Regions from separate parts of the Homo sapiens genome. Here region 1 is linked to region 2. Evidence: fine-mapped expression QTL. Tissue or cell type: transverse colon. Region 2 holds a variant in brackets; the other region holds the start of a gene. All regions are shown on one strand. Distances are between the middles of the regions.

What was found. PIP is the estimated chance that this variant, and not a neighbour inherited with it, causes the effect.
Region 1: it holds the start of FADS6, and the variant in region 2 is fine-mapped to the expression of FADS6 in transverse colon (GTEx, PIP 0.99).

The regions. Positions count from the first base shown.
Region 1 is chr17:74,890,355-74,898,412 of GRCh38, reverse strand. It overlaps FADS6 (fatty acid desaturase 6), which reads left to right and starts at 4,780. Exons shown (of 6, transcript NM_178128.6): 1 at 4,780-5,061; 2 at 5,724-5,890. The coding sequence starts at 4,818.
Region 2 is chr17:74,741,759-74,749,818 of GRCh38, reverse strand. It overlaps RAB37 (RAB37, member RAS oncogene family), which reads right to left. Exons shown (of 9, transcript NM_001006638.3): 3 at 7,524-7,565; 4 at 6,624-6,690; 5 at 6,479-6,531; 6 at 5,446-5,511; 7 at 4,890-4,946; 8 at 4,735-4,811; 9 at 2,484-4,513. The coding sequence ends at 4,408. NHERF1 (NHERF family PDZ scaffold protein 1) reads right to left here and starts at 1,191. Exons shown (of 6, transcript NM_004252.5): 1 at 532-1,191. The coding sequence starts at 972. It overlaps SLC9A3R1-AS1 (SLC9A3R1 antisense RNA 1), which reads left to right. Exons shown (of 3, transcript NR_187307.1): 1 at 1-756; 2 at 892-1,246; 3 at 2,276-4,219. MIR3615 (microRNA 3615) reads right to left here and starts at 1,206; the gene lies at 1,120-1,206. RefSeq lists enhancers at 128-753, 2,042-2,637, 7,118-7,267 and a silencer at 958-1,647. The variant A/TGCCCA (reference allele first, on the strand shown) is at 4,726.

The DNA of each region.
Region 1 (8,058 bases), 150 kb before region 2:
GCAAGATGACAGAGAGGGATAGGGAGGAGTTGAGGGGTGTCACTCAGACTCTGGGGGCAGCTGGCAGGGGTAGGTTGGCCGCTCTACCACCCACCCACACTCATGCCGACCCCATGGCCAAGGGAACCCACAGGCCAGCCCCGCCCTGCCTTCCCCCGCTCCACTGTCCTGGGTTTAGGGGTGATTTTACCTTCTGATTTATACCTCTACAAAAACCAATTACCAACTGGGCAAGGTAGCTCACGCCTGTAATCTCAGCACTTTGGGAGGCCGAGGTGGGCAAATCATTTGAGGTCAGGAGTTTGAGGCCAGCCTGGCCATCATGGTGAAATCCCATCTCTAATAGAAATACAAAAAAGTTAGCTGGGTGTGGTGGCACATGCCTGTAATCCCAGCTGCTGAGGGAGGCTGAGGCAGGAGAATCACTTGAACCTGGGAGATGGAGGTTGCAGTGAGCCGAGATTGCACCACTGCACTCCAGCCTGGGTGACAGAATGAGCCTCCATCTCAAAATAAATAAAGAAAATAAAGAAAAGTGATTACCATTTGAAAATATAAAATTGTTGTAATTAAAATATAACACCTAGACAGGAAAATGCACATACTCTAACAGTATAGCATGATGAAGTGTTACAAACTGAACACTCAAGGGTAACTAGAACCCAGTTTAAGAAACAAAACATTTATCAGCCTCTGGAGAACCCCCTCATGCCCCCTTCTAGTCACTATCCCTAATCAGTTAAAGCCATCCTAACTTCTAATGCCATAGATTCATTTTGTCTGTTTTTGAACTTTATACACATGGGATCATCTGATCGGTGTTTTGTGTCTGGTTTCCATTTGTTCGGCATTGGATTTGGGCTGTGTGGTAATCCCCCCATCGCCGTTTATTGATTTATTCCACTGCTGGCAGAAAATTGCATTGTGCCCAGTTGTTATCTTTTGAGTAGTGCTGCTATGAATATTTGTGTATGTTTCTTTGCTTTTCTGTTGAGTATATATCTAGGATATGCATGTGTTCAACTTAAATAAAACTCTTTTCTTTTTTCTTTTCTTTTTTTTTTTTTTTGAAACGGAGTCTCACTCTGGCACCCAGGCTGGAGTACAGTGGTGCGATCTCAGCTCACTGCAACCTCCACCTCCCGGGTTCAAGCGATTCTCCTGCCTCAGCCTCCAGAGTAGCCGGGATTACAGGCACATGCCACCATACCCAGCTAATTTTTGTATTGTTAGTAGAGATGGGGTTTCCCCATGTTGGCCAGGTTGGTCTTGAACTCCTGACCTCAGGTGATCTGCTTGCCTCGGCCTCCCAAAGTGCTGGGATTACGGGCGTGAGCCACCATGCCCAGCCTTCCTTGTCTATTTAATTTTGGCCATTCTAGTGGGTCTGCAGGGTTATCTTATTGGTGTTCAAATTAGCATTTCCCTAAAAACTAATGATGGGGAGCATCTTTTCACATGCTTCTTGGCCATTTGCATATCTTCTTTGGTAAACTGTCTATTCAATTCTTCCTTATTTTGTTACCCCCATCATCATTTCCACAGTCCCTCCCTCTGCTATCTGCACCCTTAGCACCTTTATGTTTGGGGGACTGGAACGTCTCTAAACTGGTCCCCCTCACTCCGGTCCCCCTCACTCCAGTGGCTACTCCATTGTGCCAGACAAACCTTCCTGAACACAGCATTGCACAAGTCACTCCACTGCCCTGAAACTTCCTATGGCTCCCATGCCTGTGAGGACAAACCTCAGCTTCTCAGTCTGCCTTTGTGGCACTCCAGCCCGTGGTCCCAGCCTTTCTTTCCTGCCTTCCCTTGCCTTTCCCACCAATCTCTCAAACTCTACTCCTGGCCCATGCCTTGAGGACCCAGAATACTTGGTTCTCTTCCTTCTCTCTGAGGTTTAAGTAGTCTGTTTGCTGTTATTGTCATTGTTGTTTTAAGACAAGGTCTTGCTCTGTCGTGCAGGCTGGAATGCAATCATCGCTCACTGCAGCCTCCAACTCCTGGGCTCAAGCGATCCTTGAACCTCAGCCTTCCAGAGTGTTGGGATTATAGTTGTGAGCCACCATGCTAAGTCTGTTCTAAATCAAGTCTGCCTCTCTCTTGGGAGGCTACCAGCCAGCCCTACCCCACAGGGATCCCTGTTCCTCTGAGCTCCTCTGAAACATGTTCTTTCCTCTGGCGCTCAGCATTTACCTCTGTCCAGTACCACTTGGATGTCCAGGAGGGAGCCAGGGCCTGGAGAGGAGCTTCTTGGTGCCAGGAAGTTCCTGGCATATATGATAAAAATGATAACATCTCCTTATAAGCTTAAAATATGGGATATTAATATCACATATGCTTTTACAAATTATACATATCCCCTCCTTGAAAATTGTAGTATGCTAGAGAGGGAGGGATTTGACGGTAGAGTGGGAAAGGGAGGGAGGAGGGCGACTCTTCCTTATCTGTCTTAAGAATCTCTTAAGATGGTGGCTCATGCCTATAATCTCAGCACTTTGGGAAGCCGAGGCGGGTGGATCACGAGGTCAGGATATTGAGACCATCCTGGCTGACATAGTGAAACCCTGTCTCTACTAAAAATACAAAAATTAGCTGGGTGTGGTGGTGCGTGCCTGTAATCCCAGCTACTCGGGAGGCTGAGGCAGGAGAATCACTTGAACCAGGGAGTTGGAGGTTGCAGTGAGTGGAGATCGCGCCACTGCACTCCAGCCTAGTGATAGAGCGAGGCTCTGTCTCAAAAAAAAAAAAAAAAGAAAATCTCTCATGGAAACCATTGCATTTGGAGAAGCTCCTGGATTCAGCTCTAATTCTGCCATTTACTAACTGTGGAGTGCTGGGCGGATCAGTTCATCTCTTGGGGCCTCCGTTGATTAAATGAAGATGAGGCCATCCTATTTTTTTTTTTTTTTTTGTAGATGGAGTTTTGCTCTTGTCCCCCAAGCTGGAGTGCAATGGTGCGAACTTGGCTCACTGCAACCTCTGCCTCCTGGTTTCAAGCGAGTCTTCTGCCTCAGTCTCCCGAATAGCTTGTATTACAGGCTCCTGCCACCACGTCCAGCTAATTTTTGTATTTTCAGTAGAGCCGGGGTTTCACCATGTTGGCCAGGCAGGTCTCGAACTCCTGACCTCAAGTGATCTGCCTGTCTTGGCCTCCCAAAGTGCTGGGATTACAGGTGTGAGCCACCGCGCCTGGCCTTAGATGATGCCATCCTTGAGGGATGTGGGGAATCCACAAAACCTCATCAGTATGTGAAAGTCAATGATAACCTGCGGGGCAGGTATATGCGCACGTGCACTTGGTGAGAATTGGTTTATTAAATTGTCAGTCCCTTAGAATACTGAGCTGGTAAATAAATCTTATTCTTTGATAAAGAATTAAAGGAATAAGCTCATACGAATTCATGATTAGCCAGGCTTAGTGGTCCCCGTGTGTGCCTGTAGTCCCAAGCTACTCAGGAGGCTGAGGGGGAGGATCACTTGAGCCTAGGAAATCGAGGCTGCAGTGAGCTGTGATTGTGCCACTGCACTCCAGCCTGAGTGATAGAGCGAGACCCTGTTTCTAAACAAAGAGAGAAAAAAAAGAATTCCTGAAGGAAAACACCAGGAAGGAGTCAAAAGGAATCAATGTCATTAGGATCCCTGACTGTCTCTCCCTTACCCCACCCACCCAACTTCTCTTTCCTAGGGGTCTCCTGCTAAAGATGCCACTGTCCTCACCATACCAGATCCCTTAAGTCATGAAACTGGGAGTAAGTAAAACAAAAAAGAAAAGAGAAAGGGTATTCAGAAGCAGGGAAGAGGAGTTTGTAGAGGACAGAGGCTTATCCCCTGAGGACCAAGGCCATCTCCAGCAGTGCGGGGTGGGGGCCTGGGCTGATGGGAAGGGGATGTGACAGGTGTGGCTCCCACATCTCAGAGGGCTTGGCTGAGGCCCTGGCCCTGGGTTCAGGCCTGGGCGCTCTTGAGGGAGTGGAATGGCAGCGGGACCCGGCTGGTCTGCCTGCCCACCCAGAATGATGACCTCCGGATGTGTATTCCCTGTAGCTACCCGTCTCACCCAAAACATTATTGGGCTGAAGAGCCAGCTCCCCTGGGTCACCTCTGCTGAAGCCATACTCAGAGGGGACCTCTCACTCCTTGACCCACGGGGAGGGGGAGTGGGGAGTCCTTGAACTTTCTGCCCTAGGAATTCCCAGATGTTTCTGTGCCAAGCATTGCCCTAGGTACTGAAGACAGAGCTTGGGCAAAACGAGGACGTCTCTACGGCACTGAGGGTCCGTCTGTTGGCAGAGACAGACGACAGCATGTGTCATGTGTGTCACGTACGAGGGGAGCTGCTCAGTGCCACTACGAATAGTCAGGGTCGAGGGAAGAGAATGCTCGGACAGATCTCAGGGACCGAGGGAACTCAGGGAGTTATTTGAGGTCGGAGGTCAGGGAAGGCCCTCGGGGCGGGGCGGGGGTGGGGGGTGTCTCCACTGGGGTCTCCGTGCCCCTGACGCCTCCGTCCCTACTACCTGGGCTGGGTCTCACCGCAGGGTCGCCTCCCCGCCTAGCCACTCTCAGCTCATCGGCCTGGCTCCTCCCTCCGCGGCGGTTCTGATGCCGCCTGCCAGGGTCGCGCGCCTGAGCCGGGCCTGGGTCGCCAGCGCCCGCAGCAGAGGAGCCAGGGTGTCTCGCACCTTGACCCCGGGGGCGGGTGTCCCCAGGCGGCGCGTGACTCCGCCCCGGCCCGCCCCGCCTCGCCTGCACCGCAGACACACGCCCCAGTCCTCCAGTCCTCCGTGCGCGTCGGGCCCGAGCCCACAGAGTCCATGGAACCCACGGAGCCGATGGAACCTACGGAGCCCATGGAACCTACGGAGCCCATGGAACCTACGGAGCCCATGGAACCTACGGAGCCCATGGAACCGGCGCGGAGCGCGCACCGTGGGGGCGAGGCGCTGCTGCGGGAGCTGGAGGTGCTGGTGCAGGACGTGGTGAGGACGAGCTCCTGGTGGGAGCGCCACGGCGTGGACTGCGCCATCCTCGCGCTCAGCCTCTTCGCCTTGCCGGCAGGTGAGGAACGCGGGGACCCGGCGTCCCGGCCGGGCTGCGGGTGGGGGCGGGGTGCGGCGGAGGTGGCGGCGCGGGGTCTGCAACAGCAGCCGTGGGAGTGCAGCCTGCGGAGTGGACTGGCGGCGGCAGGGAGGCGGAGGTGGTCGGGGCCCCGCACCCAAGGATGGAGGGTCACACCCCGAACCTGAGAGTCTGGACTGGGGTGTTCTGCCCTGTGTACCCTAGGAGGGGGCGCAGGAGGGTGGTGGAAGGGAAAGTTGAGAGGAGCGGGGGAGTGGCCGGGAGTGATGAGGTGCCCCCCCACCCCCGGGAAGGGAGACGGTGTTCTTTGGGGACCTAGGTGAGTGGGGAGGGGGTGGGAGTTTCCCCTGGACCCTTCCTGGTCTGGAACACCCATGGTACCTGAGGCCCCAACATTGCTTTGGCTGGGGGCCCAGGACCACGCACTGGAGAGTCAGGACCAGGCACGGGAGAGTCAGGACCGCTGGAGGGGCAGTCCTGGTTCCCCTCAGGCCACAGTGGGACCTGCCTCACTCCGGCCAGTGGCAGCCCCCAGAGCCTAGCCCACTTTAGCCTGGGCTCCCAGGGTAAGGGTTGAGGTATTTGGGCCCAGATCACCCAGAGCTAGAGAAAGACCCGTCTTCTTCCTCCTCTCCACGCAGGCTTCCTGTGCCTGCGCTGGGAGAATGCCCTGGTCTTTGCATCCGGCATCACCATCTTGGGTGTGTGCCACTACACACTCACTGTCAAGGGCAGCCACCTGGCCACTCATGGGGCCCTCACCGAGTCCAAACGCTGGAGCAAGATCTGGCTGCTTTTCTTTGTGGAGGTGAGCCTGGGAGAAGGAGGATGCAGGCAGCTGCTGGGACCGTGTGGCAGCCTCATTCTTCTGTTCGAGCATGCGGGTGTGTCCAGCTGTGCATGTGCCCACGGGGGCAGGCCGCTGCAGCTGATGGTATGCCGGTCCACTGGTGCAGTATGCACTACAGCGTGTCTGAGGACTTCTCCAAGCCCTTGAGCGGGTCTTTGCACCCCATGGGTAGAGAGTTGTAGGATGAGTATGCCGCTGTCTTGGCCCACAGTTACAACCAGTGGGGCCTCCAGATTTTGCAGTCAGGGTTTAAAATGTGACCCACAGACAGAAAGGGAGGGGGAGGAGGGGCCCAGTGTCCACAAGGGGCAGCGTCCTTACTCCGGATGATGCTCCTCTGATGCCTGGCCATGGCCTAGCCTTCCTGAGAAGCCCCCTGCTCCCCGGGGTCAGCTCCAGGAAGTACCCACCTCACCTGACCCTTGCCCTCCCTTCTTCCACCCCTTCCCAGTTCGACCTTGGCCTTCTTACCTTCGGGCACGCCCAGGAAGGCAAAAGTTTCGACCAGCTTGTCTTTCTCTCTTGACTGGTCTCCAGGCCTCCCCAGTTCCTCTGCTGAACTTGCTCCCTCCTCCTTTCCAGGGGGACCGTCGCCTGGTCACCCAGGTGATGGTTCCCCTAAATAAATGAATGGCCACACCTTATGAATAAATAGGAAAGCTGGGACCAGAAACAGTTCTTTTCTGGAAGGACTGGTCGTTGTGACCAATTAACTCAATTATTAAGTTTTTATAAAGTTATATAACTTTATATAACTGTCTACACACACATATATCATCACTATCCACTCAGCTGAGTGGATGAAGCATTTCTCACCTAGCACTATCCCCTGCTTCTTCCCCTCCCCTGCCCCTCTCACCAGCACACACATCAAAGTGCTGAAGACAAGAGGAACTGACAGGCTTCTGATCCTCAGGGTCAATTTCAAGACAATTCCTTTCCCACGGAGCCCTGAGCATTAGTCCCGGCCAGACTCTAAGACACGGGCCAGGCTCTGGAGTCTGGGTCAGCTGCCCGCCAAGTTTGTAATCCACAGAGAGGCAAGGGAGACATTGGGCTGTGCTGGTGACATGGACTGTGTCATAATGCTGGGTCACAGGGGCAGAATGAGCTATGTTTGGATTTTTAAAAAAGCTGTACTGAGGCTGCGCGCGGTGGCTCACACCTGTAATCCCAGCACTTTGGGAGGCCGAGGCAGGTGGATCGCCTGAGGTCAGGAGTTTGAGACCAGCATGACCAACGTGGTGAAACCTGATCTCTACTAAAAGTACAAAAATTAGCCGGGCATGGTGGCACGCACCTGTAATCCCAGCTACTCAGGAGGCTGAGACAGATCAAGACTCTGTCTCAAAAAAAAAAAAAAAAAAATCAAAAAGAAAAAAGCTGTACTGAGTACCAGGAGCCTAGAGGCAGCTGAGGATGAGGAGCAGGTACTGAGGCTTTGGGACTGCTTGGCTGCAAGGCATTTATTGCACAGAGGTAACCTAGTGGTTCTCAAACTTCGGTGTGTAGCAGAATGATCTGGAGGCCCAGGCTTGCTGGAGAAGAGGACTCGGGCCACTGTGTTTTTACCAAGTTCCACAGGTGAATCTGATACCCACCAAAGTGTTACACCCACACCATAGCTATCATGTGTGCCAAATGAATGCAGGAGGCCAAGGACGCCTCCTCTGAGAAGCCTTCCTGGGCTTCTCTACTGGAGCGCTCCACCGGAAACCCAGCACGCTTGAGATACCCAGATAGCCTCAGTGCTGCATTCTGCTTGTGAATGCTGTCTTGTCCCCGTAAGCCCAGTGGCTTCATCTTTGCCTCTTTGACTCTTCAGCTCCTGGCACAGACTTGAGCTCTTGGCAATATTCTTCCATCAATATTTGCTGACGATGACCCTGCAGTTGTCTAGGGAACCAGGTTCAGGCCTGCAAGCCCCCTCGAAGCTGGGGAGGAAAGGCTTGGCTCCCGCTTCATGTCGTGACACCTGCCTGGTGGACTGCAGTGGGCTGAGGAACAGGGCCCGAGTAGTTTATTACTCAAGCCTCCGACTGACCTACGTGGGATGCGTCTTGATTTTTTCATCCCACAGGTGCCCTCCAGCTACCCTCTGGGGAGGGTCCAGTTCCAAGTGTGGG
Region 2 (8,060 bases):
CACACCGGCGGGCTGCGGAGAGGGCCTCCTCGCGCCGGGGCTCCACACAGGAGGAGTAATGCTATTCCTCTAGCTTTTGAAGTAGGAGTGGCGGGCGAAGCTGGCACCTCTGGGGCGGAGAGCCCTTTCTCCCCGGCCCATCTGCGGACTGGGGTGAACGAGGAGAGGGCACCAGGGAAGGAGCAGGATTGGGGGATTCCGAGGAACGGGAGCAGACACCCACAGACCCGAGGGAAGGGGGCTGGGTTCCCCTGCGCCGCCCTCCCAAAGGCCAGGGAACAAGAGGTGCAGGCGGCAAAGGCGCTCAAGCTCCCAGCACAGCCTGGGAAGGAGAGGAGGTCGCGGGACGCAGCCCCAGGCCTGCCTAGGATGTGTCAGGGCGCCTGGTCGGCGGGCGGAAGCGGTCTCCCCCTCGCAGCTCGAGTTTCAGAAAAACGACGGCGGGCGCGGGGCTGGACGGCCGGGGCACCTGGGTCTCTCCGGATCCTCCTCCCACTCCATGCCAGCCTGCGCGGCTTGGGCCCCGCTTACCTGCTCCGGGTGGCTCTTGTCGGCCTCGCGAGGCTCATTTTCGTTGCCAGCCCCCTGCACCTCGGCGGCGGCCGGCGGCTCGGCCTGCCCCGGCGCTTCCTGGGCGCGCAGCAGCTCCTCTCGGACCTGGACGCCGAGCTTCTGCAGCTGCTCGTCCGTCTCGGGGTCGACCACCAGCAGGCGCACGGCGTTGAGTGCGGCGCGGATGCGGCTCACCACCTGCTGGTGGGTCTCCTTCTCCACGTTTTCGCCGTTCACCTCCACCAGCCGGTCCCCCGCCAGCAGCCCCGCCTTCTCGGCCGGCGAGCCGGGCTCCACCAGCCGGATGTACTGGCCCAACTTGCCCTTCTCCCCGTGCAGGTGGAAGCCGTAGCCGTTCGGACCCTTCTCCAGGCAGCAGAGCCGGGGCAGGGGCGCCCCGGCCGCTGCGTCCGCGCTCATCTCGCCCTGCGACGGGTCAGCGGCGCGACTTGGGGTTCCGATGGGGACGGGACGGGACGGCCCAGCCCTTCTTCCCGTCCAGCGAACCGGGAGCGCAGCAGAGAAGCCCTGAGCCGCCGGACGGGCCAAGCAAGCAGGTGTCCCAGGAACCGTCGGCCGCCGCGAGCCGCGAGGAGCCGAGAGAGGACCACAGACCAATCCCCGCCCCGCGCGGCGTCTGAGCGTCCCAGAGTCCGCCCCGGCTCCTTACCCCGGGGGCGGGGCCGCGCTGAGGGTGGGGACCTCCGCGGGCCAATAGGGGGCTGCAGGCCTGGGCGCTCCGGCCGGGTGAACGGCGCCGGCCATTGGGAACGCGCGGGGCGGGGCCTGCGCTCGGCGCGGCGCCCCGCGGCGGGCGAAGACTAGCGCTCAGGAAGTGGAAGTGTTTGTTACCGAGCGGCCGGCGCTGGGGTGGCAGGGGCGGGGCTCGCCGAATTCCCGGTTCTGGGCGGGTGGGCCCGCCGGCTCCGGCCTGGTTTCCCCTACCTGTGGCGGGGAGTGAGGAAAGCCGGCCCTCGGGTAAAGGACCCTAACTTTTTTTTTTTTTTTTGAGACGGAGTCTCGCTCTGTCGCCCAGGCTGGACTGCCGTGGCGCGATCTCGGATCACTGCAACCTCCGCCTCCCGGGTTCAAGCGATTCCCCTGCCTCAGCCTCCCGAGCAGCTGGGGTTACAGGCGCGCACCACCACGCCCCGCTAATTTTTGTATTTTTAGTAGAGACGAAATTTCGCCATGTTGGCCAGGATGGTTTCAAACTCCTGACCTCAGGTGATCCGCCCTGGGATTACAGACGTGAGCCACCGCACCTGGCCAACGTTTTAACAGCCTTTAGCCAAAGCCTGGGTGCAGCTCCAGTTGAGAGGGAGCGGCTGTTGCCGGGGCAACTGCTCCCGCTCGGGGCAGCGAGGGCCGGTCAGTCTCGAGAATTAAGACGGAGGGCCTCCTCGGACCCTACAGAGTTGTTTGAATAACATTTTTCCGTTTGTGGGAACCCTAACCCTAATCCACTTTGTGCTGTCCCAGGACTCGCATAGAGGAGTGCAGGTTCTGATCCCTGCTGGGAAGGTGAGGGCTCCGCGGAGAGCCTGGGACCTCGAGGGGCAGCCCGCTGAAGACAGGCCATCTAGGGCAATAGCGTGGGCTTTGGCAGCAGCGTTTGGCTAGGGAGGTGGGGTGGGGAGAGGCAGGACAGACTCAGGTAATCAACCTCTGGGTACACGCCACAGGGAAAGGAGCCTTGGTTTTTTTTTTTTTTTTCCAACAGAAAAATGATTAGGACTGTAAAGCCTTCTAGCTCCCTCTTGCCAAAGAGAGGCTGGTCACAGAGGCGGGAGACAGTCTGTTGAGCGGGGAGCTGACCATCTGAGGACAGACACTGAGGAAGGAGGATGGAATGATTTTGGCAGTGAATGACAATTCCTTCAACAAGACCCCCCCCCCCCACTCACTTCAAAGAAACAGTGGACAGGATGTGCTTTCCAAAATACTGCAGTTTAATTCTGAAAAACTCAAATGCAAGAGGCCCAGAGCTGTCTATGGGATTGGATCTCCTGCAACCTGCCTTGGGCCCCAGAAGAGACTGGCAATGTCAGCCTCCTCCCTGCTCTGCCTGAGGGAGGCCACGGAGAACTTCCTTATCGGGCCCAAACTGGAGCCGCTGACTGCTCAGAGCAAGATTTCTGCCTTGAAAGCAAATGCAGTAGCCTCAGAAATGTGCAGCGCATACTTCTTCCTCCCCCTCTCCCCCTCCAGGCCGGCAGAGCTGCAGTAAAGATGCCTGCAGGTCATGACCTCATGTTTCCTGTCCACTTCCCATGGCAGGGATCGGAGCTTTGGGAGATATGTGACCAAGGAGGACACATGAACTTGCTACCCCTCTCTCTACCCCAGACATACCCACATGACTTTGTTTTACTCATATTGCATTGGTTTAACTCGGAAATGGGTGACCTCCCACCACCTAACCTGACTCAGTAGGAGGGGAGGTAAAGCAGTTTAGGCCCTGGTATCTGTTTGAGAAGTTAAAGGAAAGGGCATGGGTGGTCAGGGAGGAGGCAGAGCTTGGGGTCAAAGGGATACATGTCAGGGGAGGTTTGCTTAATCTTGTCTCCCACCAGCTCCAGGAGCCAGGGATTTCTCTTTTTTTTCACAACACATTCCAAACCTAGGAAAGGGATTTCTCCTTATCTGGCTCTTAACCCAGGAGGGCTAAACACTTCAGCTGCTTGAAGAAATCGCCTGTGGAGCTGCATGCCTGCCAAAGGATTGGGATAAGACACATCTAGCCTGGGCATGGTGCCTTCTGCGTGTAATCCCAGTACTTTGGGAGGCCGAGGCCGGCAGGTTGCTTGAGCTCAGGAATTCAAGACCAGCCTGGGCAACATGGCGAAACCCTGTGTCTACAAAAAATACAAAAATTAGCCAGGTGTGATGGTACACACCTATAGTCCCAGCTACTTCGGCGGCTGAGGTGGGAGGATCGCTTGAGCCCCAGGGAGTGGAGGTTGTAGTGAGCGGAGATTGCACTACTGCACCTCAGCCTGGGCGACAGAACGAGACTCCATTTCAAAAAAATAAAAACAAAACTCTTTTCCTAGTTCTGACCTGAGGTTTTTAGGTGCACAGGCAGGAAGGTAGCTAAGCCAGGGATTCAGGGGGGGGAGGGGCTCCCCCAGGATCTGAAGTCCAGAGAACAGGAGCCTGGAACCAATATTTCCAGGTGCCCCAATGTGCTTGTGTGCTGGAGAAAAGGGGCATGCCTCCAGGGGGGTGTTAGTAAGGCCAGAGATAGCCAGCTAGACCCTACTCTCTGCCCCTTGTCCTCCCCCTCCCATCTCCATATCTCTTATCTTCCCTGAGGCTTTGGTCTTCCTCACAGCACAAGGGCCCACTTATTTGGGAGATGGGGCGAAGATAAGCTCCTGGAGAGCGGGAGACAGTGAAGGCTGGGGTCACCTGAGCCTCTGTCCAGCTGAACTGAGGGTGCGATGGAGTCATTACCTGCCCTCACCCCCAAAGTGCATCTGTGTCCCCTGGGGCTGAGCTGGAGCAACACCACCTTTGTTATGCTTAGGAGGGAGGGCCGGCCCCCCAAGTCCTAGAAAGCAAAAGGGCCACTAGCTCCCAGCCTCGGTTTTTTGGGGATCCAGGCGCCTTTTTTGGTATTAAATTATGTACTATTAAAATAAAAGCTAAGTGTTTTACCCTCCCTGTGGATGCGGGGAGACCGCAGGAACTCAAGTAGGAGTTGGAGTATAGCTCCCTGCTAGGAAGCGGCTGTGCAGTGAGTCCTCCATCTTTCTCCCCATTGGCTCAGCCTCTTGGAATAAGCCAGGCCTGGGAGGGGGAAGGCTGCATCCTGTGTGCCTCCAGAGCCTCCTCTCTGCCCCCTGGGATTCACATGAAGGAGCAGCAGCTGGAGCGCTTCTTCTGGGACTCTACATAGTCTCGGATCTGGAAGCTGGGCTCATCCGCCTGATGCCCGGCCCGGTATTTCAGTTCCCTTGAAGAAGAGACAATGGGCTGGGCTGGGCTGGGCTGGGCTGGGGTGAGGAGCTGAGCCGCCCCCTCCCCTCTCCCAGTGGCCCAGTGCTCCCAGAGCAAATGGACCTCAGCCTGCAGAATGCAGGTGTGTCCAGGGGCTGGGCCAGGGGCCGGGCCCTACTGGATTCCTGGAGTGTGCCGCCCTGCCCCGCACACTTCCCTTCCCTGCCC[A/TGCCCA]GCTCTCACTTGGCGATGGCCAGAAAGGCTAACTCCACATTCATGCCAGTCTTGGCGCTGGTCTCCAGGAAGGGAACACCGTACTCCTGCCCGGGAGAGAGTGTCCTCAGGGCCAGCGTCGGGTTGCCCCCACCCTTCACCCTGTCCCACAGACAATCACTTACCCTGGCCAAGGTCTCTCCGTCTTCGGAACGGATCACTCTTTCGCTGCTCATATCCGCCTGTCAAGCCCAAATGGGTCACTCTGGGGAAGGAGGCCTCCGCCCCAGCGGGCCCATATTTTGCCCCAGAAGCAGGCGTTGCCTGCCCTCTGCTGGTGGCCCAAGGGACTGCAGGCAGGTGTGATTGGCCTGGGGCCAGGGTTTCTGCCCAGTGTAGCTCCCAGCTCTGGGATCTCACCTTTGGTAAAGGGTCTTGGAATAGGACAGCAGTTGGGGCTAACCCTTTGCACTCTTAGCCCCTGACCTGGGACCCTGTTCACTCTGCTCTAATGGGGGCTGAGAACTGGGCACCCCTTGATTTCTCAGGCAACAACTTGGACTTTCCCTGGAAGGGGCAGATGGGATGGGCAGAAGCCTCCAGATATGTCTGACCCCTGAGCTGGAGGCTGCAGAGTCCTTTTCAGGAAGGATGCCTAGATAACTGTTCTTGGGTGGTTATGGGGCCGGCTAGGGCTGAGGAAGTGCAGGGCTGGGCTGACCCTGCCCCGGAGCCACTCACCTTGTTGCCTAGCAGCATGATCACCACGTCCCTCTGGGCATACTCATGAATCTCAGTGAGCCAGGCCTGTGGGAGAGGGCGTGCGAGACTGGCATTCTCTTCCTCCTGCTGCCCCTTTCTTCTTCTGCTCCGTTTGACTATCCTCAGTTACTCACTACCTTGAACACGATACCCTGTGCGTTCTCTCATCTGTACCTTTGTTCTGGCCCATCCAGGCCTGGATGGCCTTCCTTGGTGGCTCAACCCACAATGGCCCCACCCTCACCATTTTATGCTGTGCAACTATCAGTTCTATGGAAGATCCAGATGCATGGAGACCTTATCTCACAAATCAGTTGGCTGTCAGCAGTGATTTCTTGGAGTGTCCTGTTAAAGATTCTAAGACCACATAAGGGTTTCAGTGATCAAAAGTACTGTGATTGATTAGTGATGTCTGCCATGAGCATGGGGTTGGAGGTAGGAGTATGAGTGCCATGGATTTTCCTCTTTCTATATAAACGTTTTATTCTCCTAGTTTGCTTATCAGCAAACTGTCCTTGAGGTCAGGGGATTCATGAAACCTATACAATGTCGTGAACAAAATTGGTGCTTGAATTTATCAAATTTTTGTCTCTATAATAGTTTGGTTGTGAGGATACAACCACTCACTCTGTCTGACTGAGTCACTTTCTTGCAACTTGCCCTGGATGTATGTGTGGACTTTTCTGGTTGTGTTTTTCCCTTGGTCTCTGTGGATAATTATCCAGGGTGGAGTGGGGGCTGTTCTGAACACTTTGTCACGAAACACACTCGTGAATCACAGTGAGGGCTATGCAGGTGGCACAGGGTCACAACAGCCTGCTTGGCCTTCATGCCCACATGGCCACCAAATACAAAGCAGCAGATATGACTTCTGAGTCACAAGTAGGTGTTTTTCAGAAGGCAGGAGGACTCCACGCTCCACCCGCTTTCCACAGGGCAGGAAGCAACCCCAGCCTGCATAGACCTTGCCTTGGCTGCTTATGGGTGGGAGTCAGGGGAAGGGAGGACCTACCCTGATGTTGTCGAAAGAAGATTTGTTGGTGATGTCATACAGCAGAAGCAAGGCTGGAGGGGAGAGGATCACAGAGGGGACTTAGGCAGCAGCACGGATGCTACCAAGGGGCTGGGGTAGGGGTTGGAGGGTGCGAGGGACTCACCCTGAGCATCTCTGTAATAAGCATGGGTGACGCTTCGGAACCGTTCCTGCCCAGCGGTGTCCCAGATCTGGGAAGGGATGGGATGGAGAAATGGTCAGAAGGAGGCAGGTGCAAGGAATGTGCTGGGTGGAGCAGGCCTGCTTTGTTGTATGAGATATCTGTGGGAAGGTGGGGCTGTTTTCTTCTTTAGGTTCTCATGAGCCCCTGAGCATCCAATGACCTGGACAGTAGCAGTTACTGATTTCTCAAGCTCGTTCAAAATCATCTCCTCAGCCGAGCGCGGTGGCTTACACCTGTAATCCCAGCACTTTGGGAGGCCGAGGCAGGCGGATCACGAGGTCAGGAGATCCAGACCATCCTGGCTAACACAGTGAAACCCCGTCTCTACTAAAAATACAAAAAATTAGCCAGGTGTGGTGGCATGCACCTGTAGTCTCAGCTACTCAGGAGGCTGAGGCAGGAGAATCTCTTAAACCTGGGAGGCAGAGGTTGCAGTGAGCCGAGATTGTGCCACTGCACTCCAGCCTGGGCGACAGAGCGAGACTCCATCTCAAAAAAAAAAAGAAAAGAAAAGAAAAAAAAAGAATCTTCTCCTCTCCCCTAGCTCAGGGGTTGGGGATGTCCAATCTCCTAAGAGCAGATAAAGCCCTGGCAACTGGGGAGGAGATGGATGGAGGCTAAGCTTGTCTGAAGGCATTTGGAGCTGCTGTTCATAGATGAGAGGGTGCCTGGGAACTGCTTTTTCTGCAGATGTCAAATAAACAAAAGCCATTTCCTCCCGTGGGCCCCACAGGAAATTGCCCCAGGCGGAGGGCAGGGCTGCAGGCCTCCTGTGGTTCAGGGTGAGAAGGAAGGGCAGGTCCTCCATCCTCCCTCCCCAACTCCAGCCTCTGGTCTCACCTGCAGCTTCACTCTCACGCCATCCACAGTCACCACCTTGTTCTGAAAGAGAAAAAGGCAGAGGATGGGAGGGCAGGAGTCATGTGGCTCCTCAGCTCTGCAGACGTCCTGTCTTGTTCCCTCTCCAGGCCTAGAGTGGGTGCAGTGAGCCCCAGAACCGTCTCCAGCCAGATCATACCATCAGGGCAGCAGGAACCCCATACCCAGACACCTCCACTGTGGAGTCGTCCCTTCTGAGGACTGTAACTGCCTTCTCACAACAGCAGGGCAAGAGGAGCCTGAGAAACATCCTGGCTCTCTCCAGGGATCAGGCAGCCCAGGGCTGGAGGGCTGGTTGCTGCTGGAGGCCCTGCCCTTTTCCCACTTCGGTCTCCCTCTCCTGGAGCCTAGCCTTGGGACTGTGACCGAGCCCCTGGAGATGGGGTGTTTGCCTGCATCCTGGGGACCTGAGGCTACATCTGCAGCAGCACCTTTTCTTTAGCTGCCCACTAATTCTCTAGTGAAGGAAGTGTTCGCTTTCTGCCTGCTTGAAGCTGT